2 linked regions of the Homo sapiens genome follow. The protein of the gene in region 2 interacts with the protein of the main gene of each other region in a pairwise test. Each region holds a gene or a part of one and is shown on either strand. Other genes may lie near its edges.

Region 1 (3,828 bases), on a different chromosome or scaffold from region 2:
AAAGTCTCCTGGGTGTCTCCTTCTTCTGCAATGCCTGCTTGGAAACTGCATGGGCCAATTTCCCTTCCTTCCCTCATTACGACATTTATTCCAGGCTGTCTAATGTGGTGAGCTGTGTCTGGGTCTACAATTCTACAATTCTTCAATGGGTTGGAAAATCCTAAGGGCTGGAGCCTTTTTATTTTTATTTTTTCTCAGAGACAGAGTCTCTCTCTGTTGCCCAGACTAAAGCGCAGTGGTGTGAGCCTAGCTCACTGCAGCCTCGAAACCGTGGGCACAAGCAATCCTCCTACCTCAGCCTCCTGAGTAGCTGGGACTACAGGCATACACCAGCACACTTGGCTAAATTTTTAAAAATATTTTTTTTAGAGACAGGGTCTCACTATATTGCCCAGGCTGGTCTTGAACCCCTTAAGCAATCCTCCCGCCTACGCCTCCCAACATACTGGGATTACAGGTGTGAGCCACTGCACCTGGCCCCTTTCTTTGTATTTGTATCCAGGTTGGTGCCTTATGTTTCACCTCTGTGAGCTGGAGAAGATGTTACCCCTATTGAGTCTGATTTCCTTCCCCTGCCTTTGAGCTTCTGCTCATCTATCACTTTCTCTGCCCAAACTACCAGCCTCCACTGGCTAACCCAAGCTGTTCTTCCTCTGAGAAACTTTCTCGGATGACCTTAGTTCAAACTGATACCCTCCAAACCCCTCGGTACCTCCTGTCTCTGATTTAGTACATGATCATGTACTCTCTCAGTCACTTTTCATTTCTTTATATCCTAGCTCCCAAACAAACCAGGAACTCTTTGAGAAGGAGGATTATAACCTGCAGTTAAAAAGAAGGAGTTTGAGTCCTCTTTCTGCTATATCCTATACTCTTCATAAATGTTTTGTGAGTGAGGATTAAATGAAATATACATGTAGAGAGCCTGACACCCAAAAAGTACTTAATATAACAGTCTGTACTGTTGTTATAAATAAATAAGAAAATATTGCTCTCTTTCAAGGGGGACTGTAGGATTGTTAAATACCAACCTGCCCTCATCTTCTGCAAGGAAGAGTTTCTTAAAGGCTCCAGTGGGTCTGGGGTTTTGGCTGTCTTGTTCACTGCCTTCCCTTCACACAGTTGTCTAACCCTCACTGCATTCTAAGTGCTTCTCTCTCACTAAAAGTTTCTACAACCATATTGCCTTCATTTATTCCCTTGCATTTTTCAGGCAGGACTTTACTTTCTCGTTTTCCTTATAACCTTGACAGTCACTTTTCAAATGATCCCATTTGGGGAAATGTGTAAAAACATAACATGCCACTGGTCCCCTCCTTTTTAGCCTCAAAGTCTGTGGCCCACTGAGTGCAAACTCAGATTGACACCAGAATTGCATCCTCTGGACACAGTGAATTAGCAAATTTCAATGGTCCAAGGAAATCTGAATGCAGCTCACTTTTTTCTCCAGCTTCCCAAGAGCAAAATCAGCAGTAATAACACAGTTGCAACAGTGATCCTATAATAATGCTGTTCTTCGATTGTGGAAAAGGCAGCAGTAGCTCCTCTGTAGGAAAACCTGGGTTTTACCACACTCCCACACTCCCACCTAGTGCCCACAAGGCCCAGAGTAAACGTTCTGTGACATGGCTGTCCACATTCAAGGTGGCCAACACCAAACAATGCCAGTTCTCTGTTTCCCAGAAGCAGCCTCTCTGACCTGGGGGAAAATCCAGTTTCATTGGCGTATCTTCAAAGATAAAAAATCATCATCTCTCTCTCTCCTTTTTTTTTTTTTTGGCAGAGTCTTGCTCTGTCGCCCAGGCTGGAGTACAGTGGTAAGATCTCAGCTCACTGCAACCTCTGCCTCCTAGGTTCAAGCAATTCTCCTGCCCCAGCCTCCCAAGTACAGGTGCGTGCCACCACACCCGGCTCATTTTTGTATTTTTAGTAGAGACGGGGTTTCACCTTGTTGGCCAGGCTGGTCTCCAACTCCTGACCTTGGGTGATCCACCCACTTCGGCCTCCCAAAGTGCTGGGATTACAGGCGTGAGCCCCCATGACTGACCTTTTTTTTTTAAGTGATCACTAAAAAATCAAACTAACAATCAATTTTCCCCTTCCTGTCTAGTTGATTATTACTGACCCAAGCAGGTAAGTTTTTCTTTGGACCATCTCTTCTAAAATTTCACAATGATCTTGCCCATCGACCTCCTAAAACCATCTGATGACTATATTCCCAGGCCAGCTCCTCTCTCCTTAGAAATGCTAATAGTATTCTAACACCAACACGATTCCTACACAGGTCTCTTTAATTCTGTGGCACTTTCTCTCTACCACTCTGCTCTGCCTTTCTGGAAGACAGTTTACTGACCTCTGTAATAAAGGATAGATAATCAGAATGCAAAATGGCCCCACAGCCTCTTTACAACACCTGGATCAGACCTTTCAAAGCAGTGCTTACTTTCCATCCTGGAAATAACCTGGGTCCTTAGCAGTGTGAGAGCCTGGAAAAGGAGCTCTTGAACCATGTTTGCCCAAGACTGGACAGCGGGCACACTTACCAGTGTGCTTCCTGCTGTGCATCTGTAAGTGGGACAGCTTAAAATATCTCTTATTGCAGCCTGGGTAAGCACACATGAAGGGGCGTTTCTCACTGGTCTCAGATGCCGACCGTACAAGAGTCGGGGCTACTCCAGGCACACGTCGCACATCCTGCAGGCAGAGAGTAAGAGGAAGGGAGGCTTTAAGCCACATGTGAACATTCACGTAGGTCTTGAGGGAGAGTGAGCACTGGAGTATATCCAAAGAAGGGGTGGCAGGTGCAGACCTAAAACCACTCCCATTCACACTCCAGATCCCCATGGCAGACATCAGTAATGGATGCTAGATCAGGACATTCTACAATGCAGTGCTCTAAGATCATCACTACTGAGCAACCAGAAGTGGCTGTTGAGATGAAACCTACATGAAATGGCTGTCCCAGAGCCTCTGCAAAAGAAATGCTGGTACCTGGAAGAGCTCCCAATCCATTCTATCTCTCAGCTTCTCCTCTTGAGGTAGTGATGTCTGCAAGTCCAAAGTCCCAAAGTCTAACTACTCCCTCCCACTTGGAGTCATGACCACATGACCTAGAGCCAGTCTGCAATGGGTGGGGACATCCTTATTAGAAAAAAGTGGGATAATGAATGAGCCCCTAACTGACCAGATCGTCCAAGTATAAGTAAATAACAAGGAAGAAGAAGCCCCTGGATTTGGGGATCCCATCTGTGAAAGGAAGCAAAACCCACCAGAAGGCCATGGTGAAGCCAGCACAACCTTTAATAGTGAGGCCAGAAAGCACTGGAATCCATCTGCCTTCTGTGCTCTGCACACGTCCTTTGCAGGGCATCTGTTGCTCCCCTTTATCTTGTGGAAGTGCAGTGTGTGTGTTGTCAGTCTTCCAAGAATAAGAACTGGAGGAAAACAAAGAGGCAAGCTCCCCTTCCTCTTCTTGGGGTCAGGGAGTCATAAATGGGAGCTGAGCAAGTGCCTGAGTGGCCACTAAATTCTCCTCATTCCTTTATAGATGAGTAAATCAACCCCAAAGGCGGTGAGATGCTGACACAAGAGTGCATCCATGTTTTGGTTTTGTTTGTTCTTAAGACAGGATCTTATTCTGTTGTCCAGGCTGGAGTGCAGTGGCACGATCGGGGCTCCTGCAGCCTCGACCTCACCAGCTTAAGTAATCCTCCCACTTCAGCCTCCTGAACAGCTGGGACAACAGGTGAGAGTCATCATGCCCAGCTAATTTTTTTTTTTTTTTTTGGTAGAGATAGGGTCTCCCTATGTTGCTCAGGCTGGTCTCAA
Region 2 (3,828 bases):
TATATTTTGGAGTGTGTTGTGGAGTAGGGATACGATTTTTCCAGCAGTCATAAGGCCCTTTATTAAATCCATCCTTTTCTGTTATACTTAAGATAACATCATCACATTCTAAATCCTTACTATATCCTTATAGTCATAGATCTGCTTCTTGACTTTCTATTCTGTTCCACCAACCTATCTATTCATGTGCCAATACTAATGTTATTGTTTATTTTATCTTTTCTTTTATTTTTTTTTTGAGACAGAGTATCGCTCTGTTGCCCAGGCTGGAGTGCAATGGCGCAATCTCAGCTCACTGCAACCTCCGCCTTCCTGGTTCAAGTGATTCTTGTGCCTTGGCCTCCCGAGTAGCTGAGATTACAGGCATGCACCATCACGCTCAACTAATTTTTGTATTTTTAGTAGAGACGGGGTTTCACCATGTTTCCCAGGCTGGTATCGTGATCCACCTGTCTAGGCCTCCGTAAGCCACTGCACCCGGCCTATCTTATGTCATTATGTTTTAATAACTGATCTGGTAATCCTTTCATTGTCTCTACTATCAAATTTTATTTTCAGCTCTGAGAATTTTTTAGATGAACCTTAAAATCGTTTTGTCAAGTCAAAAAAAATTCTAAATTTTATGGTAATTATGTTCACTTATTTATCATTCATTCAAAAATCATTTATTGTGTGTCCCACGTGCTAGGCATGAATTCAATTAAATGTAGACTCATTTGGAGAGAATTGATAATGTTACAAAATTTTTTCACCTAAGTAGTTTTGTTTCTCTGTTCATTCAAGTCTCTTTTTATGTCCCTGAATAAGGTTTATCATTGTATTCAGATAGGCCCTGCACTTTTCTTAGTACATTTATTCCCAGGCATCATATATATTTTGTTGTTTTGTGAACATAATCCATTTCACCACATTTTCTAGTGGATTGATGGTATGTAAGAGAGCTATTGATTTTTATACATATATTTTCTTCCTCCCTTAGTTAACTCTCGTTAGTTCTCATTGTTCTTCAGTTTCATTCCAGATAGACAATAATATTATCACTAAATATAGATGACTTTGTCTCCTTTCTTTACAATATTAACACCTGAATTATTTTTCTTCTTTCACTGTATTGCCTAGAAATGTTTAAACTATGTTGATTAATAACCATAATAATGGGCGTTCTTGAGTCATTCCTGACTTTAATGGGAATGTGCTAATATTTCATAATGAAGTATAATGTTGGCTGCTGGTGTAAGATAGATACCCTTTATTAAATTAAGGATGTATTTCTCTAGTTTTAGTTTTCTACAAATTTTCTGTTGTTATTTTGTTTCATTTTGAATCAGGGATAGAACTGGGATTCTATCAAATCCTTTTAATATTTACTGCCATGATGATATTTCCCCCTGCCTATTAATTATTGAATGTTATTAATATATTTGCCAATATTAAAATATTCTTGCATTCTTGAACAAAGTCCACAAGTGCTAATGTTTTATATAGGATTCATGATTCAACATTCCTAAGTGAAGTGTGTCTGCAGTTTTCTTTTGTGTGCTACATCTGTAAATTTTGGCATAAGAGTTATACCTGTTTCATTCATAAAATAACCTAGGAAGCTTCCTGTTGCTTTTCTAGACTAAAACAGATGAAACAATATAGGAATGATTTGATCCATTAAAGGTTTGGGAAAACTCATCCAGAAAAAGTCTGAGTCTTCATTTTTTGGAGAGGGGTAGTTCTTTATCTTTTGCTTCTTCATGGTCACAGTTAATTTTGTTATTTTTATTTTGCTAGGAAATCATCTATTTACAAAGCAATTATTAGCATGGAATCATAAGACTATTCACTTGTAATATTTAAATCTCCTTTATATCAATGATAATATCTTCTTTCTCATTTTAATGAGAGCAACTTCCATACACATACATTTGAATGTGTACTCTCACAATGAACTCTATTATAAATGTTAAATCAAGCTAAATTATATTATGCAAATGCTCTGTATCTTTATTTTTCTGTCAAGGACTAAAAGATAAATATTAAAGTATCTCACCATGATTGTGGTTTTGACGATTTCTACTTAAATTTCTAAAACTATTTGTTTCATATATTCCAATAGTGCATATTCAATCATGACAATTTTATCTTCACTATATATTACACCTTGACAATATTAAACATAATCCATTTTGTCCTGCTTGTTTTCTACTAATGCTTACTCATTATTGAACACCCACTATATTCTGTGTTTTGAGGATATATCAGTGAACAAGTCAGACAAGATCCCTGCCCTCATGGAGCTTACTACAATGCAGTGGAGAAGACAGACCACTAACAAATTAAGTAATTACAAATTGTAATGAGTGCTATGAAGAAAAGTGGATACTGATACAGAATAAAGGAGGGGGGCTACTTTAAATGGGAGCCAGTCTCTCTGAGGAGATGATATTTAAGTGGAAAAAAAAAAAAGACTAGAAGTAGCTGGCTGAACAAAGGGCCTGGGAGAGTGCTTCCAGCACAAGGACAAGAAATGAGATTAATGTTGCTAGGCACATTTTGCCAGATCAGAGAACCCTCTGTCCTACATGACATGAGAAGGGAGCTACAGATGGAAGGGACCTTGACAAGACTTTAGTTCCATATTGCTGTTTGTTTGCTCAGTGTTCCCCTTCGTCAATTTGCTGTCCTTGTTGCCACTCGATTCAGCACACCATCTGAAGTAAGTGTTGGCTGACAGTAGCACACTGAGGCCCAAGTCTCCATCCTAAGTTATATTCAGCAAGTTATGTGCTCTCTGGAATTCCTCTAGAATATTGATCCCCCAACTTAGAGTCCCCAACTCAGAGTGCCCTAGCCTCCAGACCCTGCTGGACAGGCTTGCCCTTGGCTTGACATGAAACACAAGTTGCTGTGATTTCTCTCCATCATGTTTTTATCTTTCAGAGAACCCTCCAAGTTTCTGGCATATAGATGCCAGATGGAAACTTTCTAGGTTCTCCAGGTTTTCACCCTTTATAGATCTTTCGGTCATTACAATGGGCATTGAAATGAAAGCGACAATTAAACATCTTAACTAAGATGAGCAACATCAGTGGCAGTCTCAACCATAAGTCTAGAATATATTTTACCCTGCCCTCCACCTTTGGTTTCTTCCGTACTCTGAAAGAAAATTATTTTTAAATTAATTTGAGCAGTATGTCTCAAAGTGTAGTCTATCACTAGTAGTACATAAGAATTTTAGGTGGAACATAGATGAATATTTATGGATATATTAATGTTTGCTATGAGTTTATTTGAAAGTGTAAAAGAAAAAAATGAGTAACATATCAAACCTACCATGACACCAAACACGGCTGACATCACTTGCCATAGGGCAAATCTTTATAAACTTTGTCTTTTTTGATACTTTGAGTTCTGGGATACATGTGCAGAATGTGCAGGTTTGTTACATAGGTATACATGGGCCATGGTGGTTTGCTGCACCCATCAACCCGTCATCTACATTAGGTATTTCTCCTAATGCTCTCCCTCCTCTAGCCCCCCACCCCCTGACAGGCCCTGGTGTGTGATGTTCCTCTCCCTGTGTCCATATGTTCTCATTGTTCAACTCCCACTTATGTGTGAGAACATGCGGTGTTTAGTTTTCTGTCCCTGTGTTAGTTTGCTGAGAATGATGGTTTCAAGCCTCATCCATGTCCCTGCAAAGGACATGAACTCATTCTTTTTTATGGCTGCATAGTATTCCATGATGTATATGTGCCATATTTTCTTTATCCAGTCTATCATTGATGGGCATTTGGGTTGGTTCCAAGTCTTTGCTATTGTAAATAGTGCTGCAATAAA

What was found.
Region 1: the proteins of FMR1NB (region 2) and WT1 interact in a two-hybrid assay, tested with the Homo sapiens proteins (one large-scale study listed by BioGRID and IntAct).

What each region holds. Positions count from the first base shown.
Region 1 is NC_000011.10:32,393,714-32,397,541, forward strand, and holds part of WT1 (Wilms tumor protein), read right to left. Parts: intron 2,695-3,828; coding exon 2,544-2,694; intron 1-2,543. UniProt on the Homo sapiens protein: Transcription factor that plays an important role in cellular development and cell survival. Recognizes and binds to the DNA sequence 5'-GCG(T/G)GGGCG-3'. Regulates the expression of numerous target genes, including EPO.
Region 2 is NC_000023.11:147,998,160-148,001,987, reverse strand, and holds part of FMR1NB (FMR1 neighbor protein), read right to left. Parts: intron 1-3,828.